6 separate regions of the Homo sapiens genome follow, and all the other regions are linked to region 1. Evidence: fine-mapped expression QTL. A gene starts in region 1. Each other region holds a variant in brackets. All regions are shown on one strand. Distances are between the middles of the regions. Region 1 holds the start of GAA (alpha glucosidase). Region 2 has its middle 6.6 kb from the start of CARD14. Region 3 overlaps CCDC40 (coiled-coil domain 40 molecular ruler complex subunit). Region 4 has its middle 16 kb from the start of EIF4A3. Region 5 overlaps CCDC40 (coiled-coil domain 40 molecular ruler complex subunit). Region 6 has its middle 6.3 kb from the start of EIF4A3.

Evidence for each region. PIP is the estimated chance that this variant, and not a neighbour inherited with it, causes the effect.
Region 2: its variant is the best candidate, but not a certain one, in a credible set for the expression of GAA in whole blood (TOPMed, PIP 0.90).
Region 3: its variant is the best candidate, but not a certain one, in a credible set for the expression of GAA in whole blood (TOPMed, PIP 0.59).
Region 4: its variant is the best candidate, but not a certain one, in a credible set for the expression of GAA in neutrophils (CEDAR, PIP 0.75).
Region 5: its variant is the best candidate, but not a certain one, in a credible set for the expression of GAA in NK cells (Gilchrist 2021, PIP 0.56).
Region 6: its variant is the best candidate, but not a certain one, in a credible set for the expression of GAA in thyroid (GTEx, PIP 0.75).

Annotation. Positions count from the first base shown.
Region 1 is chr17:80,099,251-80,103,250 of GRCh38, reverse strand. GAA (alpha glucosidase) reads right to left here and starts at 1,670. Exons shown (of 20, transcript NM_000152.5): 1 at 1,361-1,670. It overlaps CCDC40 (coiled-coil domain 40 molecular ruler complex subunit), which reads right to left. Exons shown (of 20, transcript NM_017950.4): 20 at 2,638-3,724. The coding sequence ends at 3,476. RefSeq lists an enhancer at 1,064-1,173 and a silencer at 1,504-2,123.
Region 2 is chr17:80,160,716-80,166,215 of GRCh38, reverse strand. No RefSeq gene overlaps it. Among named protein-coding and RNA genes, the nearest start is that of CARD14, 6.6 kb to the left of the region's middle. RefSeq lists a silencer at 2,492-2,786. The variant A/T (reference allele first, on the strand shown) is at 2,543.
Region 3 is chr17:80,059,914-80,065,413 of GRCh38, reverse strand. All of the region lies in intron 9 of CCDC40 (coiled-coil domain 40 molecular ruler complex subunit), which reads right to left. The region is part of intron 1 of LOC124904074 (a long non-coding RNA gene); the gene reads left to right. Among named protein-coding and RNA genes, the nearest start is that of CCDC40, 26 kb to the right of the region's middle. The variant C/T (reference allele first, on the strand shown) is at 2,547.
Region 4 is chr17:80,128,558-80,134,057 of GRCh38, reverse strand. No RefSeq gene overlaps it. Among named protein-coding and RNA genes, the nearest start is that of EIF4A3, 16 kb to the left of the region's middle. RefSeq lists a silencer at 335-500. The variant G/TG (reference allele first, on the strand shown) is at 2,919.
Region 5 is chr17:80,077,565-80,083,064 of GRCh38, reverse strand. CCDC40 (coiled-coil domain 40 molecular ruler complex subunit) reads right to left here. Exons shown (of 20, transcript NM_017950.4): 11 at 1,276-1,519; 12 at 1,007-1,189. Among named protein-coding and RNA genes, the nearest start is that of MIR1268B, 19 kb to the left of the region's middle. RefSeq lists an enhancer at 108-609. The variant T/GTCTT (reference allele first, on the strand shown) is at 2,856.
Region 6 is chr17:80,150,635-80,156,134 of GRCh38, reverse strand. No RefSeq gene overlaps it. Among named protein-coding and RNA genes, the nearest start is that of EIF4A3, 6.3 kb to the right of the region's middle. RefSeq lists a silencer at 239-439 and enhancers at 42-579, 2,730-3,229, 3,230-3,731. The variant G/A (reference allele first, on the strand shown) is at 3,230.

The DNA.
Region 1 (4,000 bases):
TTCAGAAAGCAGCCCCTGGCCAGTGAAGCTCCTTGGAGCAGAGGACTGTGCAACCTTCTCTGGTACTGGGAGCTGGTCACATACCAGGAAGAAGTGAACTCAGGGCCCGAGGGAGTCTGACCTGTCATGTCATGTTACAGAAGGCTTGGCTGGGAACGCTCTGCCCCCGGCCGGACGTGGTGTTCCACCGTGGGCCACTGGTAAATTAGGGCTCTCTGGGCTGGAGGGTGAAACATTTTACCCACACTTCTGACATTAAATGTGTAGGGTTTTTCTCACACCCATCAATTCTGCAACTTTCTGGACACGGCTGGGTGTCCTACAATTCAATTCAATCTTGACACTACCTGGAGTCAGCACAGACTCCACAGGTTAAGGGCTCAGTCCCACAACACTGCCTTCACTTCAGAGGCCAATGGCAAATCCCAGGTTGTCACTTGTACTTTCGATCAACTAGTTATAAATTCAGAGGTTCCCAGGACTCCCTCTTCAGGGTCACAGAACTCAGGAAAGTGCGTTTCTTACAGTTGCTGGTTTATTACAAAGGATAAAACTCAGACAGCCGTATGGAAGAGATGCGTAGGGCCTGGTGTGAGGTGGGGGCAGTGATGCTGTGCTCTCTGCTCGCACCACCCTCCAGTGCCTTGGTGTGTTCCACAACCCGGCGGGAAGCCCTCTGATCCCTGTGGTTTCTTACGGGGTTCCATTGTGCAGGCATGGTTGACTAAGCCACTGGTGATTCACTCAATCTCCAGCCCCTCACCCCTTTTCCATCCCAACCCGTCATCAGGCCTTGGTCTTTCTGGCCATCTGCTTCCATCCTGAAGCCACCTGGTGTCCCCGGTCATCAGTCACCTCATGAGCAAAAGGCTCTCTCATCACTCGGTTTCCAAGGGTTTCGGGTGCTATGTGCCAGCAACCAGGGACAAAGACCAGAGACAGTCACCCCTGGCCTGGCCTAAGGGGGTCTTTGTGATTGAGACATTCAGATTTCAGAGCTGGCCCAGGGGCCCCCTCTCAGGCCACGGTGCTCCTCACCCCAGGGATTCAGACCCAGCCATGTGCGTCCTGCAGGAGCAGGAGAGGTGGCTCGGGTCCCGGCCAGGACTGAGCACTGCGTCGATCAAAAGGGGAAAGGAAACCCTAGAAACGGGAAGATGCAGCCTCCAGCCCCAAGCCCAGCACAGGAGGGCGGCTCCCCGTTCATCTCTAAGCTGAACTCAGATAAAGACCGGGAGGACTAGAGGTCTGGGGCTCAAGCTCCGCTCAGGGGAAGAGGCTGGGGGCACGGCTAGGCACGTTCAAACCCGCTTCTGGGATGTTACCGCCGGCAGCGCGGGGCAGACGTCAGGTGTCTCACCCGCTCCGTGCCTCAGTTTCCCCGTCAGCTGCGGCACGCGCAGAGCCTCCCTCGCTGAACAACGGGCGGACGAGGAGAACCTAGAGGTGGCCGGGGTCCTTCGCGTCACCGAGGTCACTGTCCTACCTGCTGCCTCATCCCCGACCTCCACCCGCGGCCCCGGCGACAACCTCAGCTTTCCCAACTGAGAGGCCGCGCGGGCAGCCGACCGCCCCACCGACCCGGCCCGCGCTCAGGGAAGCCCCGCAGCCCCGGCCCGGCTCACCTCCGCGCACGCGCGCCCTGGCCGCCCGCGGAGACTCCGGGGTCGTGCCCGGGGGCGCGCAGAGGCGGGTCACGTGACCGGCGGGAGCTCGTCGCGGGGCGGGGCCGCGGTGGGTCACGTGACGCGGCCTCCCGCGCAGGCGCCCGAGGCAAGGGTGCGCGTCCGCGCTACGCCCCCCAGTGGCGGCTCCGGCAGAGCGGGCCTGGGCGCGTCCTCGCTCTCGGAGGGGGCCTGGGGAGCGCGTCTGGCTGCGCGTCCGGCGTCCCGCGGGGAGAGGCCCACGCGTGCTGCCCGCTGCCGGTTCCTCTGGGGTCAGAGACGGGGCGAGGCCCCCGCTGGCGCAGTCCCGGCCCGGTCCCCGTGGGGTCGGAGATGGGGCGTGGCCCCCGCTGCCCCGGCCTGGGTCCCCGCAGCTCGTAGGGCTTTGTAAGGGGCTGGCCCAGCCGCGCCTTGCGCCCAGGGATTCCTCCTGCCAACGCGTCCCGAGGGCATCATCGGAAAGGCGGCCAAAGGCGCTCAGCGCCAAGTTAGAAACAGCCAACATTTGGAAAGTCCTTAAGTGTGCTCCATAACTCACAGTTATTCCAGAAAGGAATAATCAAAACATTGTGATAACCCATAAAACTGACAATTGAGAAAACATTAAACTGACACAGGGGGAATTTTTTCATAAAATGAGAAAATGCTTACATTAAGAGGAGCACATTTTTACATGTGAGATACAAAAAACACACAGTATAACCTTAACTTGCCTAATAAAATGTATGTGCAGAAAAATACAAAAGGAGCCACACCAAAACACAGAGGTGTTGTTCCTGGGTAGGGGCATAGGGGCATTAAAAGCCCCCTTTCCAGCTTGCAGCGAGCCGAGACCGCGCCACTGCACTCCAGCCTGGGCGACAGAGCGAGACTCCGTCTCAAAAAAAAAAAAACAAAAGCCTCCCTTCCACCTCTGTTGTGGTTTCTGTATTTCTACAATGTTTTAAAATAAGTAAGGCTGACTCAGAAAGGCTTACTAGATATTCAGAAAAAAGATTTTATTCTTCTGCTGAAATGTTTGAAAGTGAAATTATTTTGTAGAGCATTTTCCCTTTAAACTGCAAAGAAGCCCCAAGGTCATTGGTACTTGGAAGTCCAGGGAGAAAGAGCGCTGGGTTAATGATGGAGAAAAGATAGGTGGGCAGACTGGGGCGTAGTCCCTTGGTGTGGACGCCCCAGCGTGCTCTTATTTCAGTGCTCACCCTGTTACGTGTGTCTGGGGCCACTGACTTTCTCCTGCAAGCTGTGGATCTGAATTTAACTCAAATGGGGACATGGGGGCAGGAAAAGGGACCTGAGAGTTCTAAGGGGTGGGGATGGGAAAACTGGTAAAGAAGGTGGTTTGTGGGTTTTCAGATGCACCTAGTAGAGGGAAGTGCTGGGGGGACCAGCCTCCCGGGCCAGGCTGGCTGGAGCTGCCTTAACTTTCCCACCTCTGCTCAGCCCACCAGCTTGTGGACCTGTGGCAGCGTTGTGTTGTGAGAGGCACGTGCAGATTTGGGAGTGCTGCAAACCAAAGTGTTACCTGGACGAGTAAGCCCAGTGTGGGAGTGTGGGTGTGTGGGTCTGCAGTCACAGGCTCTGTCTTTGCGATGGGATGCCATGGGAAACGCTAGGATTTTACCTGGTTTATTAAATTGCTGAGTGGCTAAAAAGATTCCTATGGGTGGGGCTGGCTTATTTCTCTTAAACGATGCCCTTCTGAGGGTACATGTGGTTTTTAGGAACACAAAAGATTCCAAGTCCCTCATGACAAACACAATTCCGGATCTCTTCCTGGAGGCCTTGCAAGGCGGAGTCCAGGCTGCTCCCTAGGAGGGCCCTGGTGACTCGAGCTTGTTGGCGATCATCTGGCTGACCTTGTGCAGGGCCTCCTGGAACTGGGGGTACTCGTCCCGCACGCGGTCCAGGATGGTGGCGATGAGAGCCAGTCGCTTGTCCAGGCGCTGGCGCTCCAGCACTAGGGACTGCTTGGAGCGGAACAGGAACACGTAGCGCCCCTCCTTCACAGCCTGCAGGTGCTTAAGGCGTGTCTGCAGGGCCACGATCTCTGAAAGGTTCTGGGTAGGAAAAGAGACTCCATATAGGGCTATGCAAACCAGAAGAAAGACACCTGCTGGCCCCCCACAAACTCAGATTCCAGGAAATGCCGAAGAGGAGGCGAGACCTACGCCTGAAAAGGGACGGCGTGAAGGTGTTGCGCCCCTGGATCTCAGGGAAGAGGCTGAGAGGCACTGGGTCGGTGCTTTATGGGTCACCCATCATCACCATCTAGGAGGCATTCTTTTTTTTTTTTGAGATGGAGTCTTGCTCTGTCGCCCAGGCTGGAGTGCAGC
Region 2 (5,500 bases), 62 kb before region 1:
CTCATGATCCGCCCACCTCGGCCTCCCAAAGTGCTGGGATTACAGGCGTGAGCCACCATGCCCGGCCACAAAAAAATTTTTTTTAAATACAGGGTTTTGCTCTGTTGCCCAGGCTGGACTGCAGTAGTGTGATCATAGCTCACTTCAGCCTCAAACTCCTAGGCTCAAGTAATCCTCCTGCCTCAGCCTCCCAAGTAGTTGGGATTACAGGCATGTGCCACCACATTCAGCTAATTAAAAAAAATTTTTTTTTGTAGAGATGGGGTCTTGCCATATTGCCCAGGCTGGTCTCAAATACCTGGCCTCAAGCGATCCTCCTGTCTCAGTCTTTCAAAGTACTGGAATTACAGGTGCATGCCACCATGCCTGGCTAATTATTTTATTTTATTTTTTCTAAAGATGGGGGTCTTGCCATGTTGCCAAGGTTGGTCTTGAACTCCCGACCTCAAGTGATCCACCCACCTTGGCCTGGGATTACAGGTGTGAGCCACAATGGCCAGCCAAAATTACCATTTTTAAAATGAACAATTCAGGCCAGGTGCGGTGGTTCACACCTATAATCCCAGCACTCTAGGAGGCCAAGGTGGGCAGATACCTGAGGTCAGAAGTTCGAGACCAGCCTGGCCAACATGGTGAAACCATCTCTACTAAAAACACAAAAATTAGCTGGGTGCGGAGGCTCACGCCTGTAATCCCAGCACTTTGGGAGGCTGAGGTGGGTGGATCACGAGGTCAGGAGATTGAGACCATCCTGGCTAACACGGTGAAACCCCGTCTCTACTAAAAATACAAAAAATAGCCGGGCATGGTTGCGGGCACCTATAGTCCCAGCTACTCGGGAGGCTGAGGCAGGAGAATGGCGTGAACCCGGGAGGCGGAGCTTGCAGTGAGCCAAGATCGCGCCACTGCACTCCAGCCTGGGCGAGAGAGCTAGACTCTGTCTCAAAAAAAAAAAAAAAGAAAAAAAAAGAAAAAAACATGAAAATTAGCTGGGCTTGGTGGCAGGTGCTTGTAATCCCAGCTACTCAGGACGCTGAGACAGGAGAATCGCATGAACCCCAGAGGTGGAGGTTGTAGTGAGCCAAGATCTCACCATCGCACTCCAGCCAGGGTGACAAGAGTGAAACTCTGTCTTAAAAAGATAAATAAAATAAAATAAAATAAAATAAAATAAAATAAAATGAACAATTCAAGCCAGGCATGGTGGCTCACACCTGTTATCTTAGAACTAGAACTTTGGGAGGCCAAGCTGGGAGGATTGCCTGAGCTCAGGAGCTCGAGACCAGCCTGGGCAACATGGCAAAACCCCGTCTCTAATAAAAATACAAAAAAATTAGCCAGGGGTGGTGGTGCATGCCTGTAATGCCAGCTACTGGGGAGACTGAGGCAGGAGAATTGCTTGAACCTGGGATGTGGAGGTTGCAGTGAGCCAAGACCACGCCACTGTACTCCAGCCTGGGTCACAGAGTGAGACTCCGTCAAATAAACAAACAAAAAAACACAATTCAGTGGCATTTAGTAAATATACAACATTGTGTGACCACTATATCTAGTTTCGGAACATTTTTACCACCCAAAAAGAAACCACACACCCGTTAAGCAGCTCCTGGTCCAAGGCAACCACCAATCTGCTTTCCATCTCTGGATTTGCCTGTTCTGCACATTTCATATACGTGGAGTTGTGTAATATGTGGCCTCTTGCATTGGTGTCTTCCCCTCTGCATGATGTTTTGAGGCTCTTCCATGTCATAGCCTGTGTCAGTGCCTCGTCCTGGATGTGGCCATATCATATTCCATTGTGTGAACGCCGTGCGTTGTCGATTCATTTGTCTGTTCATGGCCATCGGGCTCTCGTGAATGCTGCTATTGTAACCGTGCAGTGGGTTCATTTATCCCACTTCCCAGATAGAGCCAATTTATCAAGACAGGGGAATCGAAATAGAGAAAGAGTTTAATTCATGCAGAGCTGGCTGAACAGGAGACTGGAGTTTTATTATGACTCAAACCAGCCTCCCCAGAATTCGGAGGCTAGGAGTTTTCAAGGATAGTTTGGGGGCCCTGGGAATGAGTGCTGCTGGTTGGTTGCAGATGCAATGACAGGGGTGACAGTCTTCTTCTGGGTGAGGCCACAGGACACATTGGCAGGTCCAGGTGGAGCCATCAGCTATCAGAAATGCAAAACCCTGGCCAGGCGCAGTGGCTCACGCCTGTAATCCCAGCACTTTGGGAGGCCAAGGCAGACAGATCACAAGGTCGGGAAATCAAAAACATCTTGGCCAACATGGTGAAACCCCATCTCTACTAAAAATAAAAAATAAAAAATTAGCTGGGTGTGGTGGCACACGCCTGTAATCCCAGCTACTTTGGAGGCTGAGGCAGAAGAATCATTTGAACCCGGGAGGCAGAGGTTGCAGTGAGCCAAGATCGGGCCACTGCACTCCACCCTGGGCAACAAGAGCAAAACTCCATCTCAAAAAAAAAAAAAAAAAAAAAAGAAGAAGAAGAAGAAATGCAAAATCCTGAAAAGACATCTCAAAAGGCC[A/T]ATCTTAGATTTATGCGTACACATCAGCAGAACTCAGGCTCCTTTCATCGTCCTAACTTGGTAGACTTTCATTAGCCTTATGATGACAGTTTAGTTTTGGAGAAGGGCTATTATCATTTAAACCACAAACTAAATGTCTCCCAAAGTGAACTTGGCACAAGCCCAGTTTGGAGGTTAAAGACAAGATGAGGCGTTTCGCTGGAGCCCATGAGGTTGAGGCTGCAGTGAGCTATGATTGCACCACTTCACTCCAGCCTGGGCTACTCAGTGAGACCCTATCTCTTAAAAAAATTAAAACAAAAACAAAAACAAACAAACAAAACAACCAAACTGCACACTTTGGATTCCATGTGGGATTAACAATGGAAGCTACTCCATTTTGGAGTCTGGTATTTAAAATTCTCACTGCGGCTTGGGTTTGCCTCCTGATCAGGGAATCAGTCCCTACTGGCTTCCATTTATTGATCCTTATCCCTTCCATGAACAGCTTTTGATTTCCTGCCTTCTGTCTTTGGGACACAGGGCTTTTGGACCCTTATGTGCAGGTGGTCAGCTGAGAAGCTGAGACCCTAGAGAATACAGCTGAACAGAAATGTGAGTTAGACTCCACTTGTGGCTAGTGAAACTTCACTTTCTTTGAGCTGTCTTTGGGATGGTTCTGGGTCTTATACAAAAAGAATTATCAGCTGTTTGGCCCAGCTAAAATCTGGTAACAAGAGATTTGAAAGGATTTTTTGGGGGGCAGGGGGGACAGAGTCTCACTCTGTCAACCAGGCTGGAGTACAGTGGCACAATCTCAGCTCACTGCGAGCTCCGCCTCCTGGGTTGAAGCGATTCTCATGCCTCAGCCTCCTGAGTAGCTGGGATTAAAGGCATGCACCACCATGCTTGGCTAAGTTTTGTATTTTTGGTAGAAACAGGGTTTCACCACGTTGGCCAGGCTGGTCTCGAACTCCTGGCCTCAAGTGATTCGCCCACCTCGGCCTCCCAAAGTGCTGGGATTACAGGCGTGAGCCACCACACCCGACCGATTCCCTCTCTTTTTAGACCACACGGGGTAACTTCCTGACATTGCCATGGCATTTGTAAACCATCATGGCGCTGGTAGGAGTGTCTTTTTGCATGCTAACACATTATAATTAGCATATAATGAGCAGCGAGGACAGGCAGAGGTCACTTCCATCGCCATCCTGGTTTTGGTGGGTTCCGGCTGGCTTCTTCATCGCATCCTGTTTTATCAGCAAGGTCTTTGTGACCTATATTTTGTGCCAACCTCCTATCTCATCCTCTGACTAAGAGTGCCTAACCTCCTGGGAATGCAGCCCAGTGGGCCTCAGCCTTATTTTACCCAGACCCTGTTCAAGATGGAGTCACTCTGGTTCGAACGCCTCTGACACCTCTGTTCACTTCATTTAAAAAAAATTGTTCTCCCATATACTTTTACTCCGCCCCACTCCTGCTTCCGCTGCCATATTCAGTACCATGTAAAGAGATCTAGAGATTTCTAATGACCCAAACCCCTTAAGGAACTCAGAAAAAAAAGATGCCACTCACCGTTGGTTGGAGGTCTTCTGCTTTCCTTGTGGAGTTTCAAGCACCACATGGAGAGTCTCCTGAGGTCTAACGCTCCGCTCTCTTTTGCACAGTATTACCCGATTTCTTTGGCTTTTCGGAGATACCAAAAATGACCCTGTATTGTGAGAAAACTTGACCGTGGTTTGCGTAATGGCTAGGCAAGAGATACAGTTTTAGAGGTGGCTGATGGCAGTTGCTTACAGAAAATGGTTATTACTACAGGGGGTGACAAAAAGCATGGTTTGGGGCACCAATGAGGTGGGAAATCAGCCGGATTTGTTTTCTGAGCACCGGTAATGACCCTGCTGGTCAAAGCAGGATGCAAACTGGGTGCAGTGGCTCATGCCTATAACCCCAGAATTTTGGGAGGCTGCAAAAGGAGGATCACTTGAACCCAGGAGTTTGAGACCACCCTGGGCAACATAGTGAGACCCCCATCTCTACAAAAAATTAAAAAATTAGCCAAGCATGGTGGCATGTGCTTGTGGGCCCAGGTACTTGGGAGACTAAGGCAGGAGGATTGCTTGAGCCCAGGAGGTCAAGGCTGCAGTAGGCCATGATTGTACCACTGCGATCCAGCCTGGGCAATGGAGCGAGACCCTATCTCAAAAAAAAAAAAAAAAAAAAAAAAAAAAAAAAGCAGGCTTAAATAAATAAAGAAAAAAACCAGCTGAAACCAGCAGATGGAAAGCAAAGTGACCTCCAGTTGCCCTCACTGCTCATCAGCATGAAGACCTTCCTTACGGCACTATGACAGCCTATAAATGCCATGGCAATACCCTACATGGTTCCAGAACTCCCCTACTTCTTTTCTAGAAAATTCAGAATAGCCCACCCCTTGATTAGCATATAATTAAGACCGGGTGTAATTGTGGCTAGCCAGTGCTCCCTTGTTGCAGCTGTGGCTGCCCCTGCTGCTGCTGCTGCTCCTCCTCCTGCTGCTGTTTACTGCTACTCTAGCCTCTCCCTGTGGGTTAGCCCTGCTCTTAAATTATTTCCTGAGCAAAGCCAAGAACTCTCTCAGGCTAAGCCCCAATTTTGAGGTGTGCCTGTGTTACCTAGAGGCTATGAAAACACAGCCCACCAAGGGATACGACTCCACGGGCGATAGGCTGACCACAGATTGGGATAACTGGCTTTGTTTCCGAGTACCCCCATTTTTCTAAAAGATGTTTAATTATTTTTTTCCTCTCTTTTTTTCTCCTTTTCCCAGTTCCTGACTTCCTACTTAGCCCTTTAGGTATGCAAATCTAGCCTTTTCTCCCCTCCTTCACCAGACAGTCCCTCGAGATCCCCCGGCAAGTGCATCTAACTCCTGGAGAGTTAACAGTTGATTTACAGACCAAAGCATGCCTGCTATGGAACTCCCCCATCAGGGAGTGG
Region 3 (5,500 bases), 39 kb after region 1:
AGCCTCACATTCCCAAATCTTCCTCTTTTCCTTCTATCACCGGTACTTTCCTTGATCATGCATCTGCAGAGGGGTAAACACGAGCCTGAATGTAGCTTTCAAGATAACCCGTACCCGCTTTGAGCCTTTGCTCAGGGCCTGCGGTGCTCAGTGCTTGGGAATGAGGAGGAGGAGGGAAGGGAGGAGAGGGAGGAAGGGGGAGGGAGGAGGGGGAAGATGAAGGAGGGAGAGGGGAGGAGAGGGAGGAGGGGGAAGATGAAGGAGGGAGAAGGGGGAGAGGGAGGGGGAGGAGATGAAAGAGGGAGGAGGGGGAGAGGGAGGGGGAGGAGATGAAAGAGGGAGGAGGGGGAGAGGGAGGAGGGGGAGGGGGAAGACGGAGAGGAAGAGGGAGAGGAGGAGGGAGAGGAGGAGGGGATCCTGGCCAGCATCCGTGAAACACCTCTGCAGGGTTGGTGGTGTCATTGATTCGGACTGAGGTCCCACAGGACGGGCCCAGCACCGCTTCCTGTAGGGAGGCCATGATGGAAGGAGGTGTTTGTCTCAAGAATGGCCAGGGCTGGATGCTCTCGTCCAGCTGGGGGAAGCAGGGCTGCCTAGACTGGGAATGAGGAGGCACAACTGGACAGCCAGGGGTGGGCAGGTCAGGCAGGCTGAGCGGAGGCTGGAAGTCTAGGGGCATCGTGGGGGGCAGTGAGGGGCCACCTGCAGTAAGGGCTTGGCCCATGCAGGGGAGGGGCTTGAAAACTAGGGGGGTGGTTCAGGAATTTACTCCAAGGGAAAGGGGAGTTCCTTTATGCTTGGGGCACAGAGGTTAAGGCTGGTACGGCTGCCTGGGCTGAATCTCACCCGCTGTGCCTCAGTGTCCCCAGCTGTGACATGGGTACAGGAGCGGCACCTCCATGGGTACAGGAGCGACCCCGGGGCTGCCGGGTCAAGTGAGTTGATGCCTGCATGCCCAGCACGGCCTGGATCGCGGTCTTGTTTTGAGTGGTGTTTGGGATTCTTGATGAGTCATCCCCAATGCAAGCACTGTGACTTGAGCAAGCTGGCGGCCCGAGTCAGCCAACTGGGGCGTCCTGTAGAACGCCAAGTCCCAGAAGTGCCTGCACGCCGTGACACCCAGGCAAGCTTGGTAGACAGTGACTGAACCACAGTGCGCTAGAACATCACGGGGGAGCCGAGGGCAGCGCCGGGCATGAGAGAGGCCATCGCCCTGGAGACACCATGCTTGGCTGTGAGGGTTTCTGAACCATCTATTCATTACGACGTAACCTAAAATGGTGTGAATTAAGTATACCACGATGAGGGGGACTTTTTTTTCCTCTCACAGACGCTTACTTAGGATTATTGGGCAGCCTAGGAAGGGACACTGTGTACATCCCGGGACTGACTTCCCTTTTGTCTGTAGTATTTCCTTTTATTTTAGCTGACATGTTACAGCTGTATATCTCTGGGGTACAGAGTGATATTTCGACACATGTACAATGTGTACTGCTTGAATCAAGGTAATTAGCGTATCAGTCACCTCCAGCAATTGTTATTTCTTTGAGTTGGGAACATTCAAAACCCTCTCTTCTAGCTATCTGAAAATGTACAATAAATTATTGTTGACTGGGCCAGGTGCGGCGGCTCATGCCTGTAACCCCAGCACTTTGGGAGGTCAAGGCGGACGGATCACCTGAGGTCAGGGGTCCGAGACCAGCCTGGCCATGGGGGTGCAGGTGTCTATTGGATGCACGGATTCCCTTTCCTTTGGATAAATGCCCAGTCGTGGGACTGCTGGGTCACAGTTTTGTATGGGGGTAAGTTATTCACTAAGGAGGCTGCTCTGTGCCATTGGGCAGTGGGAGCTGGCCCAGGCAGCAGGTGGGGACCCAAATTCAGCCAGGATGCACCTTAAACTGAGCCTGTGCGAGGCCTCCCCATGGTGCCCCTGAGGCTGCCGGCCACAGCCTGGTTGACTGAGGTGCAGGTCAAGGCATAAGGATGGAAAGATGGCTGCCGGGCTCAGTCACCTGTGCATTTAGACCCCAGTTTTTCACAAAGGCAAGTGTTCAGCCTATGCAAATAGAATGTGCAAATAAGCAAAAAGAAAATGAAAATTCAATAACCCTAACACTTAGAGATAACCATTTCTAACTTCTTACACCTGTGATTGTGTGTGTGTGCGAAATCAAATTCTATATATTGTTTCATAATCTCCTATTAATTTTTTTTTTTGAGACACTTTTACTCTCGTCACCCAGGCTGGAGCAAAATGGCACGATCTTGGCTCACTGCAATTTCCGCCTCCTGAGTTCAAGCAATTCTCCTGTCTCAGTCTCCCGAACAGCTGCGATTATAGGCACTCGCCACCACGCCTGGCTAATTTTTGAATTTTTAGTAGAGACGGGGTTTCACCATGTTGGCCAGGCTGGTCTCGAACTCCTGACCCTCAGGTGATCTGCCGACCTCGGTCTCACAAAGTGCTGGGATTACAGGTGTGAGCCACCATGCCCCGCCATATTAAAAATTAATGTATTGTGCCAGGTGCGGTGGCTCATGCC[C/T]GTAATCCCAGCACTTTGGGAGGCTGAGGCGGGGGGATTACTTGAGGCCAGGAGTTCCCAACCAGTCTGGGCAACAAAAAGAAACACCGTCTCTACAAAAAGAATAATCATAATAAAAAAATTAGCACGGTGTGGTGGCATGTGCTTATAGTCCTACCTACTTGAGAGGCTGAGGTGGGAGGATTGCTTGGACCCAGAAGTTTGAGGCTACAGTGAGCCATGAGGGCCCCAGTGCACTCCAGCCTGGGGGACAGAGTGAGACTTAGTCTCTACCATCATTCTCAGCAAACTATTGCAAGGACAAAAACCCAAACACCGCATGTTCTCACTCATAGGTGGGAATTGAACAATGAGAACACATGGACACAGGAAGGGGAACGTCACACAACGGGGCCTGTTGTGGGGTGGGGGGAGGGGGGAGAGATAGCATTAGGAGATATACCTAATGCTAAATGACGAGTTAATGGGTGCAGCACACCAGCATGGCACATGTATACATATGTAACAAACCTGCACATCGTGCACGTGTACCCTAAAACTTAAAGTATAATTTAAAAAAAATTAAAATAAGAAATTAATATCGAGACAGGTTTCCATGTCAGTAGAGCTCTTTTTGGTGTAGTGTATTCTGATGCACAGGTGTATGAAAATGGGTTTCACTAATGTCCTCTTCTTGGGGTCTTTCTTTCTGATGACACAACACGGTGATGAGCGTCATCTCCCCCATGAGTCTCTATTCACTGTATTTATTTCTTTAGAGACGGGGGTTTCACTCTGTCACCCAGGCTGGAGTGCAGTGGTGCAATCATAGCTCACTGCAGCCCTGACTTCCTGGGCACAAGTGCTCCTCCTGCTTCAGCCTCCTGAGTAGCTGGGACTACAGGTGCACCCCACCAAGCCTGGCTTTATCATTTTTAACATACAAAAATGTTATCTGCATAGGTCTTTGCTAGGTTCCTTGGAATGGAGTCTAAGCACTAACAGGGTGCGGGGTTAGGGTTAGGGTTAGGGAGGGAGTGGCTGCATATGATCATATCGCCCTGGATGAAGATCTTGATAAAGATAAAGGCCAATCTGTATTTTCATGGCCGACAGCAGGGAGGGCTCATCTCTCCTTATCTTTGCCAACTCTGTAGGGGACTCCCTGTCCTTTGGTTACTTGTGACTTCGCTCGATGAACAGGGGCCCTGCTGTTGCCCCCGCACTGTTCTGGGTACTGGAAATGAGAAATGAAGGAAGTGCGGGCGGCCCCCTTCCCTGGGGAAGTTGCATCGAGGGGAGGGCGGGAGGTGCAAAAGGAAGCATCTACCAAGTAGCCCACCTGCCTCCAGGGTGTGGAAGCACACAGGGCGAGTCTCCTTGGCTTTCAGCCTCTCTTCACAACCCCGGATTTACTAATGGCTGCGAGTTGTCTTCTCCTGCCTGTCTCCCCGCCTTCATCTGGTTTGTGGCGTCCTTAATCTACAAAGGTTTTATTGAGGGTGTGATTGTCCTCCTAGTCTTTTGTTTTGTTTTGTTTTTTGAGATGGATTCTGGCTCTGTCGCCCAGGCTGAAATGCAATGGCATGATCTCGGCTCACTGCAACTTCTGCCTCCTGGGTTCAAGCGATTCTCCTGCCTCAGCCTCCCAAGTAGCTGGCATTACAGGCGTGTACCACCACGCCCAGCTAATTTTTGTATTTTCAGTAGAGATGGGGTTTTGCCATGCGGGCCAGGCTGGTCTCGAACTCCTGACCTCAGGTGATCCAGCGGCCTCGGCCTCCCAAAGTGCTGGGATTACAGGCGTGAGCCACCTTACCCGGCCCCTCCTAGTCTTTTCCTTTAAGGTTCCTGCTTTTGGTGTTATACTTTGAAAGGCCTCCCCAGCCCAGGATTATATAAATATTTTCATTTGTTTTCGTCTGGCACATTTTCCCCCATTTAAATACTTGATTCCATCTGGAATTTATTTTAGTGTCTGGTATGAGGAAAAGATTTAATTTTTTCCCAAATGATTAACCAAATGTCCCGACATCATTGGATGCATAATTCATTAGCTCTCTGGTAATTTATAATCTACTAGGTTTTTATATAAACTCTGGCTTGCTTTGGGGCTCTCTCATAGGCTTCAATGTCTTGCCTGTCTATCTTGTGACACATTATTTTAGCCTCTAGAACTTTACGGTTTTGTTTTATTTTAGACAGGGTCTTGCTCCGTAGCCCAGGCTGGAGTGCAGTGGTATGATCATATTTCATTGGATCTTTCATAGTTCAAGGATCTTTCATGATCCTTCCTTTTCAAAATTTTCTTGGGTATTCTTGAGCATTTAGTCTTCTAAGTGAACTTTAAAATCAATTCGTTGAGAATAAAGTGTTGTTGTTCTTTTTTTTTTTTTGACCTCCCGGGCTTAAGTGATCCTCCTGCCTCAGCCTCCTGAGTAGCTGGGACCACAGGTGCACACCACCATGGTGGGCTAATGTTTTATTTTTTTTTAATTATTATTTTTTTGTGGAGACAGGGTCTCACCATGTTGCCCAGTCTGGTCTTGAACTTCTGGGCTCAAGCCATCCTCTTGCCTCAGCCTCCCCAAGTGCTGGGATTACAGGTGTGCACCACCTTGCCTGGCCAGAGCTTTACTGTATACTTTAATATTTGGTGCGGCGATGCTAGGGTGATCTGCCATCCTGCTGTGTCCAGGACCCCCTGGGCTTAGCATGGAAAGTCCCTTGTCTTGGGGACCCCTCAGTCCTGAGCAGACTGGGATGGCTGCTTGCCCCGTTTGAATCTTCTCTTCCAAAACCATTCTTGGCTAGCCTTCCTAATTTATTTTTCAGATAAAACTCCAGAATTGTTTTGTTAACTAAGGGATTGTTTGTTCCTGAGATTCTGATTGGGACGTGCTCTACTTTAATTGCATTTGTAGCTGGAGAGACCAGTGCTGAGTAACGCCCAGCCCCGGGCCCTCCCTTTACCC
Region 4 (5,500 bases), 30 kb before region 1:
GATTCTACTTGAAGGCATCTGAAATTCTATAGTTTATGAATGGAACTTCCTTTCACTGAAACTGTGACTGGACCCTTGCTAGCCAGCTGGTGGCTGGTAGACCAGCTGCATCATCAGGAGTTGGTTAGAAATGCAAGTGCTCGGGCCCTGTCCTGGCTTGCTGAGTGAGAACCTGCAGGTAACAAGACTCCCAGGTGGCACTGCTGGCCGAGCGGGAGGAGCACGAGACTACAGGCCCAGGCAGCTTAATGAGTTCCTGGCAAGGAGGAACCAGATACAGGTGTGTTCAGGGCATTTGCTCAGCAGCAGTGGGGAGTGATGCCCACCACAGCTCTGGCCAGTGCCAGCCTCAATGTCCGTATCTGCAGGCGCCTGAGCTCACTGAGGCTCACCTGGTCTCATCAGGAGCTGCTGCCAGGCTTGTGTTAGAGGTGAGGAGTGGCTCAGGTTTCCACACAGTCACTCCGGAGGACGGAAGGCCTCCATTACCAGTAAGAATGATTCTAGATGAATAAGCACGTGGTGTTACAGTGGAGGAGGCAGCATTGGTGCCTTGGGGAGGAGATGGCAGGAGAAGGGGTGGGGCTTAAGCTACCCCACACACTGTCTAGGAAAGGTCATCCTAAAAGGAAAAATACAGCACAAGTGTTCATAAAAATGTCAAACTGTACTGACAAATCAGAAATGGTATGTGATTATCCAAGATTTAAAAACCACCAGTCCTAAAGGTTGACAAGGAAAGTTTCCAGACTTTCTGGAGAGCAGCCTGGCCCTTGGGCAGTCAGTGATGAAAATGCTATTTCCCTTTGGTGGTGTGTGGTTCTGCTGTAGACAGCTGACTGGAATGTGGACTTCTCCAGGAAGTTCAGCGTTGCTCCTGCCTATACCAGGGAAGGATGCTAAGTGCTCATGGATGGGGGCATGGTGCGGGACAGGGTGGAACATTTGCAGTGATGCTGGGAAGAGAAGGATACAAGAGGTAGAGAACTCATGGAGGTTCTTGGGAGGGTGGTTTGGGGCCAGGATCCTCCCAGAGTCCAAATGGAGTCAAGTTCAGGCAGGGGGTCTGCTGAGCCTTGCTAGGTAGGTATCACTGGGCCTCTGGTCAGGTGGAAAAACTGGCTCTAGATCCTGAGGGGCTTCCCAAGGTCCCCAGCAACTAAATCCAGATGAAAAACCCCTGGGTTATGTACTTCATTACAAAAGTATAATCTCACTGAAAAAAAACATACAAATGCATAATTTGAAAAAGTCATCCTTAATCCTCCTACCCAGATATAACTCACAATTTGATGACTGTCCATCCAGTATTTTAATTTATCTTGTACATCTACCTGTACATAAAGACCTTTTTAAGCAAAAATTGTAACCCACTTTGCCATTATTAACTCAGGTTTTTGCTTAGTAATGTATCATACATATTTCACTACGTTAAAAAAAAAAAAGCTACTTTTCCAGCCTCTATACCATGGCTCCTTTGGAAGCAGTTGAAGATTAATTAGAATAATCTTTTATTTGTTTATTTTTTTGAGATGGAGTTTCGCTCTTGTTGCCCAGGCTGGAGTACAATGGTGTGATCTCGGCTCACTGCAACCTCCACCTCCTGGGTTCAAGCGATTCTCCTGCCTCAGCCTCCTGAGTAGCTGGGATTACAGGTGCCCACCACCACACCTGGCTAATTTTTCATATTTCTAATAGAGTTGGGGTTTCACCATGTTGGCCAGGCTGGTCTCAAATTCCTGACCTCACGTGATCCTCCTGCCTTGGTCTCCCAAAGTGCTGGGATTAGGCATGAGCCACTGTGCCCACCCAGAATAATCTTTAGAAGTGATTTTCTTGATCAAGGTACATGTTTCAAATTAACGTTGCAGAAAGATTTTCCACCAATTTATACTCCTAATGGTATATTTTTTTTTTTTTTGTTTTGTTTTTTTTTTTTGGGTGGTTGAAATTTATTCAACAAATACATATAGGATGCCTTGTCTTAAAGCCAGGCAATTTTCCTAAAAGAAAAACCACATAAAAAGGGTTCTAACCAAGAGCTAGAGTGTCCTGACCCTTTGAGGTATGTCTAAAGTATAGAAATAGAATGGTAATGTTGATGCTGTTGGCATGTTTCTTTGTAGTAAGATTGTTTAAAATAATACATAGACATAAAATGTATGACGAAAATAGCACAGCACCGAAGAAAGGAGTAATGGAAGTATACTGTCAAGATTCTTACACTATTACTTGAAGGCAGATTGTGATGAATTAAAGATGTGAAACATATATAAAAGTGTTAAGCAATTTTTAGGTATGAACCTTTAAAGCAATACAAAAATGTGAAACAGAAATAAACAGCCAACGTAGGAGACAAAATAAGAGTTCTAAGGAATACTTAATCTAAGAATCCTGAAAAGGAAGGAAAAGGGAACAGAGAACTTACGAGATGGACAAATACAAAACGGTAGTAGGTTGAAAACAACCGTGTCAATAATTACATTTATTGCAGATTGTCTGTCTCACCTCAAACTAAAAGAAAAGCAAGCTAAACCCAAAGGAAGCAGAAGAAAGGAAATAATAAAGATGAGAGTAGAAATAAATGAATAGAAAAATAATAGAGAAAATCAACAAAACCAACGGTTCATTCTTTGAAAAGATCAACAAAATTGACACATCTTTAGCAAGTCTAAGGAAAAATAGGTTCAAATAACTAAAATCAAGAATGAAAGAGGTGATGGCACAGCCGACTGTACAGAATACAAAGTATCAGTGCCATGGATTGTTTGCCAACAGATGAACCTTGATAAAATGGAGAAATTCCTAGGACAAACAGATTAAATCAGTAACCAAACTTTCAACAAAGGAAAGCCAAGGCTTGTGAATCCTGCCAAACTTTTACAGAATTATCACCATCACAATTTTTTTTTTTTTTT[G/TG]ACGCAGAGTCTCACACTGTTGCCTGGGCTGGTGTGCAGTGGCACAATCTTGGCTTGCTGCAACCTCCGCCTCCTGGGTTCAAGTGATTCCCTTGCCTCAGCCTCCCAGTAGCTAGGATTACAGGTGCCTGCCACCACATCTGGTTAATTTTTTGTATTTTTAGTAGAGACGGCGTTTTACTGTGTTGGCCGGGCTGATCTCAAACTCCTGATCTTGTGATCTGCCCCCGTCAGATTCCCAAAGTGCTGGATCACGAAATCTTTCAAAAAATATAAGGCAGAACATTTCCCAACTCACCCTGAGGCCAGCATTACCTGATACCAAAACAAAGCTACCACAAAAAAAACTAGATCAATATCATATGAATATAGATGTAAAAATCCTCAAAAAACTGGCAAAACAAATCCAGCAACATATAAAAAGGATTGTACACTGACAAAGTGGGATTTATCGCAGGAATGGAAAGTTGGTTTAATATCCAAAAATCTGTCAATGTAATACACCCTATCAATAGAATAAAGGACAAAGTCCACATAATGATTTACAGATGCAGAAAAAGCATTGGACAAAATCCAGCACCTTTTCAAGATAGAAAATAAGAATGGAAGGGGGCTGCTTCAACCTGATAAACAGCATCGATGAAAAACCACAGCATTACCCGCTAAGGTTGGGAACAAAACAAGAATGCTCTTGCCACGTCTATTCCAACATTGTACTGGAAGTTACGAGCCAGGACAATTAAGCAAGAAAAGAAATAAGGCATCCAGATCGGAAAGGAAGAATCAAAACTCTCTAGTCACGGATGACATGATTTATACCTAGAAAATCTTAAGGAATTTACACATTTAAAAAATCACTTATCAGAACTTATAAATGAGGTCAGCAAGGTTGCAGAATATATGTTCAACATAGGAAAGCCAGTGTTTCTGTACACTAGCAGTCTGAACAACCTGAAAATGAAATTAAGAAAATAATTCCATTTACAATTGCATCAAAAAGAGTGAAATATGTAGGAATAAATTTAACAAAAGAAGGGCTATACTTGTTCACCGAAAACTACAAATAGCTTGTTGAAAGGCATTGCAAACCTAAATATATAAATGTCCCAGGTTCATGGATTGGAAGATAACTTTCCCAAACTGATTGATATAGTTAGTTAGGCTTTGTGCCTCCACCCAGATCTCATCTTGAATTGTAATCCCCCTAATCCCCACATGTCAAGGGACAGACAAGGTGGAGGTAATTGAATCATGGGAGCAGTTCCCCCCATGCTATTCTTGTGATAGTGAGTTCTCACAAGATCTGATGGTTTTATAAGGGGCTCTTCCCACTTCACTTGGCACTTCTTGCCACCTTGTGAAAAAGGTTCCTGCTTCGTCTTCGCCTTCCACCATGATTGTAAGTTTCCTGAGGTCTCCCCAGCCACACTGAACTGTGAGTCAATTAAACTTCTTTCCTTTTTAAAGCACCCGGGCTCAGGCAGTTCTTTATAGCAATATGAAAATGGACTAATATACTGCTCTGCAGTGTTTAGGAGAATGTGGAGAAACTGGAACCCCCATACATTGCTAGTGGGATTGTAAACAGGCACAGCCTTTATGGAAAACAGCTTGGCAGTTCCTCAAAATGTTGAACATAGGAGTTGACCTAGCAATTCTCCTCCTAGGTCTATACTCAAGAGAATTAAAAAATCTGCACACATAAACCTAATGTGTTCATAGCATTGTTCATAAGAGCCAAAAAGTGGACACAAGCCAGATGTTCATCAGCTGTAAGCAAAACTGGTGAATCCACACAATATTACTTGGCAATAAAAAGGCATGAAGTGCTGACACACTACAACCTGGATGAACCTCGGCAATATGCTAGGTGGAAGAAGGCAGACACAAAAGGCCACACGTGGTGTGATTCCATTTACATGAAACGTCCTGAACAGGTAGATCCATAGAGAGATTAGCAGGAAACCATTCACAGTGGTTTCAGGAGCTTGAGGGGGGAGGAGGGGGATGGGTGAAACAAGGAGTGGCTGAAAATGAGTATAGGGTTTCTTTTGAAGGTGATTCTAATGTTCTGGAATTAGATAATCGTGATGGTTGTACAAGTGTACTAACAACTGAATTGCATACTTTAAAATGGTAAATGTTATGGCATGTGAATTACATCTCAGCACAAATATCATGAGGAATCTCATGCATCCTCTAAAATTACACTTAAAAAGCAAAAAGCACGAGCAAGGGAAAACAAGCAAATTGCCTACTGCAAAATTAAAAGACAGATATTGTTAGGCTGGATTATAAAGCCATACACAACTATATACTATTGCTTATGAGAAATATAAAGACAAAAGTGAAAAGATGGAGAAAAATACACCATGGTAACGCACACATCAAAATAAACCTGAAGCAGCTCTATTAATATTAGACAAAGGAGATCTCAGAGCAAAGAATATTGCAAGGGACAAAGAGAGTCATTTGATAATGATAAAGGGGTAATTCATTAAAAGGATATAACAATACTAAATACCTATGCACCTAATAACAGCTTCAAAATACAGGAAATATAGGAAGGAAAAATGGATAAA
Region 5 (5,500 bases), 21 kb after region 1:
TGCCTGGACCCCGTGGTTGACCCCAGCTCCGGATGGGTGGTCCCGCCCATCCACACTTTGCTCCTCCTCCCAGATATGCCTCCCCACCCCACCTTCTATCAGCCCATGAGGCTTTGAGCAGTTCAAACATCGTGTCGGGGGTACTCTTTTCAGCAGCTGGACTGGCATCGGTTGGAAAATTGTCGTAATAGACGAATGTGTTGGTCCAAGACTCTTTGCTGCCCTCTTCTGGAAACTGGCAGCAAAACACGTATGACCTATCGGGCTGCCCAGACAGGGGCTCGGCGGGGGCCCGGGGGCCTGGGGATTGGGAACTGGACTTGGCTGGTAGCAGCACGGCTGGATGGGCTCCTTCACACCCACCACGCCCTTCAGCTCTGCCTGGCCAGCTCCTTTCCCACCCCTCAGGAGGGCAAAACCGGCAGAGCTTGGCATCGGGAATCTGTCACCCTCCTCTGAGACTAAAATGGGGACTGTTGGGCAGGCCCCACTGCTAGGATGTGCTCTGGAAATGGTGGAGCCTGTGGTAGCCTCTGGGGGTCCTCCAAAGGGGCCTGCTTGAGGCGGGGTGTTGGGGAGGCGGTCACCCCTCGGGAAGAGGCAAAGAAAAAACAATTCAAGTAAGGAATTGTTTTTTCTAAGGACACAAGTCCCCTCCACCCCCACCACAGGTGATAAAGGATAAAGCAAGATCCCAGGGGATGCGAACATGAGCTCACAATTGGGGGTTCCCTGCCATGGACGTCGAAGTCACACTCCAGGTCCCCCCAGGGAAATCAGCCTTTGGCTGGCAGCTGGCCATGCGGTGGCTCACGCCTGGCCTATTTCTAGGTTTTCTACAGTAAAAATGTATCACCCTTACAACCTGAACACCATGGAAAGGAGTGAGCACAGGAGGGCCCTCTGCTCACACTGACTCCGCCCTCTCCGCCTCCAGGACGGCTTGCCCTCATATGCCCAGGCTGCAGGGGGCTTCGCACAGCCCCTCCCTGGGGCAGGGGCCTACCATGTTGGTCTTCTCCTTCTGCAGCCTCAGGATGAGCTGGTTGAAGTATTTGGTGGTCTTGTTGGAGGTCATGTGCTCCTGCAGCTTCTCCCGGATGGCAGCATCCGTCTTCCTCCTGAGCTCCAGCTCGCCCTGGATGGCTTGGCGGATGGCCTGCAACTCCTCCGTGAGTATCATTTGTTCCTGGAGACAAGGAGCCACAGGGTGCACGTGCCTGAAGAGGCACCACCGTGCGCCAGGTGTGACCTGTGGGGCGGGCCCGGCCTCACCAGCTGGTCCTGGCTGAGGGCATCCTCTGTGTCCTGCAGGGTGAGCCTGTAGGTATTGAACTGGCTCTGCAGGGCCACCTGCTTGGTCAGGCACTGGGTGGTGAGCTTCTGCAGCAGTGTGGCTTCCGTCTCTGTCCGGTTCAGGATGCTCGCCAGCTTCTCGTTCTTTTCTTCCTCCTTCATGATGGATTTCTTATAGGCCTCAATCTCGCCGTCGGTGGATTTGGCTTGATGCTGGCATCCTCTGTAGAAATGCAGCGGGGAGAGCCAGTTACGTGTGAGACATCAGAGAGCCAGTGCACAGAGCTGCGCCCCACACGAGGGAGCTCACTAAGGCGAACTCAATGCACAGAGAAATAAATTAGGAAGCCAACTCTTATTTATTTATTTATTTATTTATTTTTTGAGACAGAGTCTCACTCTGTAACCCAGGCTGAAATACAGTGGTGCGATCTCGGTTCACTGCAACCTCCGCCTGCCGGGTTCAAGCGAGTCTCATGCCTCAACCTCTTGAGTGGCTGGGATTACAGGTGTGCGCCACCATGCCCGGCTAATTTTTAAACTCTATTTGTAGAGATGGGGTTTCACCGTGTTGCCCAGGCTGGTCTCCAACTCCTGAGCTCAAGCAATGTGCCTGCCTTGGCCTCCCAAAGTGCTGGGATTACAGGTGTGAGCCGCTGCACCCAGCAGGAAACCAACTCTTTTAATAGCAGCCAAATCTTTAAAAAATTTTTATGGATAGATTGGCACATATTTGAGAGGTACATGCGATATTTTGACACAAGCATACAGCATGTCATGATCAAATCAGGGGAACCGGCCATCTATCACCTCACACATGATCCTTCCTTCGTGTTGAGAACATTCCAAATCTTTTCCTCTAGCTATTCAGAAATATACACTAACTTACCGTGAACTGTAGTCACTGTGACATGCTATTGAACACTGGGCCTTGTTCCTTCTCCCTCACTGTATTTTTGCAGCCAATAGCCAAATCTTGACTATTATTTTCAAATAGATCAAGAGAACTATTATCTATTGAAAGCCCAAGTTGACAACTCTTTTGTACTGTGATTATGGGGAGAAGGAAAGTGACGCATGGGTCAGACGTTGGGCTAGGGGTTCTCATCTGCCCACCTTCCTTAACCATGACAATAATCCTAGGAAGGAAATAGTCCAGCTTTACAGATGTGGCCATTGAGACTCAGAGCATTTCAATCACTAGCCCAAGGTCTGCAGGAAACAGCGTGGCTGAGGGAACACCAGTGGGCCCACTTCAAATTCTATTGTCTTTCCCCTCGGCATGCTGCGATGAGATACCTGTAATTAACGTCAAGCTCTAAAACACAGATATCGGATAATCAGATCTAAAATACTGATTCAAATGAAATAATCAGATTCAAATCCTGTATTTGTTGGAGTGCAGAGGCACGATCTTGCCTCACTGCAACCTCTGCCTCCTGGGTTCAAGTCATTCTTACGCCTCAGCATGAGGATTTGAATTTTGTGTGTGTGAGGCATGTTTTCCTATTATTCTGAGATGTTCTGCGGTACTTTAAACATTCCTTTCATTCCTTTCT[T/GTCTT]TCTTTTTTTTTTTTTGAGACAGTCTCTCACTCTGTTACCCAGGCTAGAGTGCAATGGCATGATCTCAGCTCACTGCAGCCTCAAGCCACTCAAGTAGCTGGGATTACAGGTGTGTGCCACCATGCCCAGCTAATTTTTGTATTTTTGTAGAGATGGGGTTTCACCATGTTGGCCAGGCTGGTCTTGAACTCCTGACCTCAAGTGATCCACCTGCCTCGGCCTCCCAAAGTGTTGGAATTACAGGTGTGGGCCACTGCGCCTGGCCATCCAGTATTTTTTTTTTTGAGACAGAGTCTCGCTCTGCCACTCAGGCTGGAGTACAGTGGCGCGATCTCGGCTGACTGCAACCTCCTGGGTTCAAGCGATTCTCATGCCTCAGCTGCCTGAGTAGCTGGGACCACAGGCGTGTGCCACCATGCCTGCCTATTTTTTTTTTTTTTTGTATTTTTAGTAGAGACAGGGTTTCGCCCTGTTGGCCAGGCTGGTCTCGAACTCCTGACCTCAAGTGATCCACCTGCCTCAGCTTCCCAAAGTGATGGGATTACAGGCATGAGCCACCGTGCCTGGTGATCCAGTATCTATTTTTAATGTGTGTGGATATTTATTGATCCACTGATGAGATCAGAAAAAGCCAAAAAACAGGAAAGGGCCTCATTATGGATCGATGAGGATGATTAAATTATGGCACAGGCATCATTTAGAACACAGTGTGAAGAGAACTGCAAAGAACAACGGTGATTTCTATGTGTTCTGACATGGAATAACTCTAAGACACAGCACAAGAAACACCAAGCTGCAGAGCGGGACACACTAAGCGGCCGCGGGTGATTTTTAAGTGGAGAGATAAACACCCGAGAATAATGCATATGTATGAACGAAATCTATCTGGAAAGACCTTTATGAAACAGTAACAGGTTGCTTGGGAAAGAGAATTGAAAGACTGGGGAGAGATGTGAGAAAAATATGGAAGGTATTATTCTAGTCCAAGAAGAAAGTACTTTCTGACTATTTGAATAAAAACTTATTCAAAGGATAAGACACTATCAATAGAGAAAGGAAGCCTGGCCCACATGACAAAACCCCATCTCTACTAAAAATACAAAAAAAATTAGCCGGGCGTGGTGGTGTGTGGCTGTGTTCACAGCTACTTGGTACACTGAGGCATGAGAATCACTTGAACCCAGGAGGCGGATGTTGCAGTAAGCTGAGATTGTTCCGCTGCACTCCAGCCCAGGTGATAGAGCAAGACTCTGACTCAAAAAAAAAAAAAAAAAAAGATACTGATACTGGAGAGATTTGCCATGTCCATGAAGCAGAAGATTTAATATTATTAAGGCCTCAATTCTCTTCAAACTGATCTATGGATTCAATGTAATTTCAGTTACATCCCAGAAGGCATTTTTTCCCCAGAAATTGACAAGCAAGTTTTAAAATTTAAATGGAAACCTAAAGGACCTAGAGTAACCAAAATAATTTTGTAAAACAACATCAAAGACTCAGACTATCTGATTTCAAGATTTTCCATAAAGCTCTAGTTAGAAAGACAATGTGGTATTGGTGAAAGAATGACAAAAAGATCAACGGAACAGAATAGAGAGTCTGGAAACAGACACACACACACAATACATTGATCTTTGACAAAGGTGTCACAGGATTTCAATACGGAAAGGACAGTCTTTTCAACAAGTGGTGCTGGGACAACTAGAGAGAGACACACAAAACCTGAGCCTGGACCCCGCTCATACCACAACAAACGTGAACTTGAAATGGACCAGATGCCTAAAAGCGAGACCTGGAAAACTTTAGTGGAAAACTTGGGAGAAAATCTTCGTGACCCTTAGACATTTCTTTTTCTTTCCTTTTTTTTTTTTTTTTTTTGAGACAGAGTCTCGCTCTGTTGCCCAGGCTGGAGTGCAGTGGCGTGATCTTGGCTCCCTGCAAGCTCCGCCTCCCAGGTTCATGCCATTCTCCTGCCTCACCCTCCCAAGTAGCTGGGACTACAGGCGCCCGCCACCACGCCCGGCTAATTTTTTGTATTTTTAGTAGAGATGGGGTTTCACCGTGTTAGCCAGGATGGTCTCAATCTCCTGACCTCGTGATCCGCCCACCTTGGCCTCCCAAAGTGCTGGGATTAGAGGCATGAGCCACACTGTGCCCGGCCTGACCCTTAGAGATTTCTTAGAGAAGACATAAAAAGCATGAATCAGGAAAGAAAATATTTAATAAGTTGGACTTCACAAAAATTTAAAACTTTTGCTCTTCAAAAGACACTGTAAAGAGGTAAAAAAGACAAAGCCACAGACTGGGACAAAAATATTTTCAAAGCACACGTCTGATAAAAGATGTCTCCAGAAGATATGAAGAACTCTTACAACTCAATGATAAGCCACTCAGCGGAAAAATGAGCAGAAGTTGCTTCACCAGAGAAGGCACAGGAATAGCGAATAAGCCGGGGAAGAGATGCTCACCATCGCTAGTCATTAGGGACACGCAGGCTCAGACCGCAAGGCGATGCACCACACATTTGCTAATGGCTATATTTGATGGCTAAAATTAGATGACTGATAATACCAAATGTTGGCGAGGATGTGGAACAACTGGGACTCTCATAAATTGCTGGAGAAAATGCAAATTGGAACCAGTC
Region 6 (5,500 bases), 52 kb before region 1:
TGGTCTGAGAAATAAAGAGAAAGAGTACAAAAGACAGAAATTTTACAGCTGGGCCTCTGGGGGGTGACATCACCTATTGGTAGATTCCGTGATGCTCCTTGAGCCACAAAACCAGAAAGTTTTTATTAGGGGTTTCAAAAGGGGAGGGGGTACGAACAAGGAGTAAGTCACAAAGATCACATGCTTCAAAGGGCAATAAAAGATCACAAGGGCAGAAGGGCAGAGCAAGATCACAAGGCCAGGGTGAAATCAGAATTACTGATGAGGTTCCATGTCCCACTGGGCATGCATTGTCTTGACAAACATCTTAACAGGAAACAGGGTTTGAGAGCAGACAACCGGTCTGACTACAATTTGCCAGGCTGGAATTTCCTAATCCTAGCAAGCCTGAGGGCACTACAGGAGACCAAGGTGTATTTCATCCCTTATCTTCAACCACATAAAACAGACACTCCCAGAGTGGCCATTTTAGAGGCCTCCCCCTGGGAATGCATTCCTTTTCCAGGGTTATTCCTTGCTGGGAAAAGAATTCAGCAATATTTCTCCTATTTGCTCTCTGCAAGAAGAAAAATATGACTCTGTTCTGCCCGGCCCCGCAGGCAGTCAGACCTTATGGTTATCTTCCTTGTTCCCTGAAAGTCACTGTTACCCTGTTCTTTTTTAGGATGCCCAGATTTCGTATTGTTCAAACACACGTTTTACAAACAATTTGTGCAGTTAACGCAATCATCACAGGGTCCTGAGGGGACAGACATCCTCAGCTTATGAAGATGATGGCATTAAGGGATTAAAGTAAAGACAGGTATAGGAGATTATAACAGTATTGATTGGGGAAGTGATGTCCATGAAATCTTCACAATTTATGTTCAGAGACTGCAGTAAAGATAGGCGTAAGAAATTATAAAAGTATTAATTTGGGGAATTAATAAATGTCCATGAAATCTTCACAATTTATGTTCTTCTGCTGTGGCTTCAGCTGGTCCCTCCATTCGGGGTCCCTGGCTTCCTGCAACAGGCTGAAGTTTTTCTTTTAGGTTAAAATAGAGATAAGATTGATCAAACAGACTCTTTGTGGCAATAAGATACCAAATTATAAACAAGACCTAAGGCCATGGCAGGCAAAGGCTGATTCACACCCTACTAACCATAAACCCTTGTCAAACTTTTTTTTTTTTTAATTAACCTGGTACAATGTGGCTTCCTTTCCAAACTGGTTCTGGATGAGCACACATGACAGAATGGAAATAAAAATATTTTTCTGTGAAATATATTTCTTTGACATATTTTGGAATGGCACTGCAAAGCTGTCTTTCGGCTGGGCGCGGTGAACTCACGCCTGTAATCCCAGCACTTTGGGAGGCTGAGGCAGGTGGATCATAAGGTCAGGAGATTGAGACCATCCTGGCTAACACGGTGAAACCCCGTCTCTACTAAAAAATACAAAAAAGTAGCCGGGCACAGTGGCAGGCGCCTGTAGTCCCAGCTACTCGGGAGGCTGAGGCAGGAGAATGGCGTGAACCTGGGAGGCGGAGCTTGCAGTGAGCCGAGATTGTGCCACTGCAGTCCAGCCTGGGCAACAGAGCGAGACTCCATCTCAAAAAAAAAAAAAAAGCTATCTTTTGTGGGGGAAATTAATTTGCATCTGTAGAGAATGTCCATTAACATATCCAGGCCTTGCCTGGATCTAGGAGAGATTTGCTGACAGCTTGACACCTTTAAAGTCTGAAAAGAGACATTTGCCATCCATTTTCTCGGAGGGCTGCTAGAAACCTATGAGGCTTTCATTTACATAACAAGGGCCTTCACCCCCACAACTGCCTTAACTCAAGCATTCTTTTCTACTTACTTCAGGTCTTTAGACGGTAGCTTAACTCTTTTTGACTCCCCCAAAACGTAATATAAATAATAGCTTAACTCTCTCAAATGGCAAGTAAAGAATCTGTAAAACCCACGTATGACTTGTAAGCCCCTGCTCTGGGATAGCCTGCCGTTCAGGCTGAACCAAACGTATACCTTCCATGCACTGACTTACATCTTTGCCTGTAACTCCTGTTTACCTAAAATGTATAAAAGTAAACTGTTACCAGCCAGGCACAGTGGCTACTGCCTGTAATCCCAGCACTTTGGGAGGCCAAGGCGGGTAGATCACCTGAGGTCAGGAGTTTGAGACCAGCGTGACCAACATGGTGAAACCCCATCTCTACTAAATAGAAAAAATTAGCCAGGCGTGGTACTGCACGCCTGTAATCCCAGCTACTTGGGAGCCTGAGGCAGGAGAATCGCTTGAACCTGGGAAGCAGAGGTTGTGGTGAGCTGAGATTGTGCCACTGCACTCCAGCCTGGGCAACAAGAGTGAAACTCCATCTCAAAAAAAAAAAAAAAAAAGGAAACTGTCTCACGTGTCCTTGTGAAGAGACCACCAAACAGGCTTTGTGTGAGCAACACGGCTGCTTATTTCACCTGGGTGCAGGCAGGCTGAGTCCAAAAAGAGAGTCAGCAAAGGTGGTGGGATTATCATTAGTTCTTATAGGTTTTGGGATAGGCGGTGGAGTTAAGAGCAATGTTTTGGAGGGCAGGGGGAGGATCTCACAAAGTACATTCTCAAGGGTGGGGAGAATTACAAAGAACCTTCTTAAGGGTGTGGGAGATTATAAAGAAACTTCTTAAGGGTAGGGGAGATTACAAAGTACATTGATCAGTTAGTGTGGGGCAGAAACAAATCACAATGGTGGAATGTCATCAGTTAAGGCTATTTTCACTTCTTTTGTGTATCTTCGGTTGCTTCAGGCCATCTGGATGTACATGTGCAGGTCCCTGGGGATATGGTGGCTTAGCTTGGGCTCAGAGGCCTGACAGAAACTGTTACCTGGGTACCTTGTGACCACTTAAGGCTTTTTGGGTTTGTGTTTTTTCCAGGCCACAGTCACTTCTACTGGTTCAGAATAACCCTCTTGAAAACATTTTTACAGGGTCTGGTTTTTCTGTTAACACTGCACGTGTGCTAGACTCTGACCAGCCAGTGCAGGGTCTGAGAGTCAAGACAGCAGTGAGGTGAGTTCAGGCAGCGCTCAGCAAGGTGCCTTGCCCCAGCCAGTTGGGTTTAGGCAGGGCTGTGCCTAGAAATGAACAGTGTTCACCCTTTAATACCTACGGATGGGTGGAGACTTCTGGCAGGAAGTCACTTTTAGGGGATGGTCCCTTGGATCAGATCGAGGTCACTTCTATCTAG[G/A]ACATCAACTCCTGCAGTGATGAGTTACAGGAACCCAGTGCAGCCCAGCAGCACTGCCCCTGAGCCTCCTGGGCAAGAAAAGCCACCTCACCCTTTTCTACCTGATTCCTGGGAGCCGATGAAGGTAAAGGAAAAGGGACAGGTCGGCTCTGGAGGGTGGCAGACCACTGGGCTGTTCCCATTGTCACAGGGCAAACCCCCAAAGTAGGACTCAGCCTGTGAGACCACGTGGGTTCCTGGCTTCCCACGGGAAGGAACTCAAAAGTGAGCCAACAGAATGAAGTGAAAACAGGTTTATGAAGGAAGTAAAGGAATAAAAGCGTGACTACGTCATAGGCAGAGCAGCCCTGAGGGGTGCCAGTTGGCTTTTATGGTAATTTCTTAATCGTATGCTAAAAAGGGGTGGACTGTTCATGAGTTTTCCAGGAAAGGGGTGGGCAATTCCCGGAACTGAGGGTTCCTCCCTGTTTCAGACCACATAGGGTAACTTTCAGGGGTGGCCATAGCATTTGGAGACTGTCATGGCTGGTGGGAGTGTCTTTTGGCAGCTGATGCGTTATAATTAGCATATAAGGAGCAGTGAGGACAGGCGGAGGCTGCTTTCATCACCATCCTGCTTTTGGTGGAGTTTGGAGGCTTCTTTACCACATCCTGTTTTATCAGCGGGTCTTTGTGACCTCTATCTTGTGAAACAAGTCCTGCCAAATTCCTACCTCACCATCTCCCCCACAGCAACCTCCTGAGCTCACAGCGCTCCTGGCCAGCTGGGACTGCGTTGTGTCCCTCCCTCTCTCTTGCCCCAGAGGTCCACACATTGAGTAAGCCAACAACTATTTATTGAACACCTACTGAGCATTAGGGAAACAGTGGGGGCGAAACAGACATGACCCTAGCAGCCGCATTTAATGGGGTGAGTAGTCTCCCTCCCCAACGTGGAAACCATGTGGGAAGTGAGATGCCGGTGACAGCGAGGATGCTGAGACCAGGCATAGGGGTCTGTCTACCTCAGTGACCGGGAGCCTCTTTTCCTAGACACCTTGGGGGCCAGGGACAAAGGGCAGGCACTATAGCTACTGTTTAGGGAACTCTAGAGCCTGGCCTGCTTGTGCCTTTCCCTGTAGGGCGCTTGAACTTATCACACTGGGCCTTAGTGTCTCCATCAGTAAAAGAAAAAAGATACCTATCTGCATTCTCTACTTATGGAGATAATGGAGGTTTCCCATAGGAACGGAAACATTTATCCAGAATTTTAAGCAGGGGACTTGTGGATAGAAAGCTAAGCGAGGCTGTCAGCTCTCATTTTTTAAGTAGATGTTATGCATAGCACAACAGAGCTACACAGAGCCGACACTTTAACAAATCTGGTGCATGACTCACAAGGCATGTTCTCAAGACATGGCTGACACGATCCTAACTGCCTACCAGTAATAAACAGAACAAGGGGTTTGGGATCCTATTGATGCTAGGGCATCTGCTGAGCACTACATAGGCCATGGAAAAGCACGCACCATATTTCACAGCAAAAACCTCTTCTCCTGAGAGGAGCTCTTGCTGCTCTCCTACATGACAAAAACATGAGTCTCCTCCCATCTATTCACCACCTACCCACACTGCGTTTTCTAAAGCCTTTTTGGCAACAGGGATGGGTTTTGTGGAAGACAAATGTATTATTCCATTTTCATACTGCTATAAAGAACTGTCCGAGACTGGGTTATTTATAAAGGAAAGAGGTTTAATTGACAGTTCAGCATGGCTTGGGAGGCCTCAGGAAACTTACAATCATGGCAGGAGGTGAAGGGGAAGCAAGGCACCTTCTTCACAAGATGGCAGGAAGGGAAAAGTGCCAAGCAAAGGGGGAAGAGCCCCTTATAAAACCATCAGATCTCGAGACAACTATCAAGACAACAGCATGGGGGACTCATCCCCGTGATTCAATTACTCCACCTGGCTTCTCCCTCGACACGTGGGGATTATAGGGATTATGGGATTACAATTCAAGATGAGATGTGGGTGAAGACACAAAGTCTAGCCACGTCAACAACTTTTCCACAGGTGGTGGAAAAAAATTCTTCCAGAGATGGATGGGGTAGTGGTTTCGGGATGAAACTATTCCACCTCCCATCATCAGGCATTAGATTCTCATGAGGAGTGCACAACCTAGATCCCTCGCATGTGCAGTTCACAACAGGGTTCACACTCCTCTGAGTCCAGTGCTGCTGCTGACAGCAGGCAGAGCTCAGTTTAGCTCCCTTGCTTGCCTCCTGCTGCACC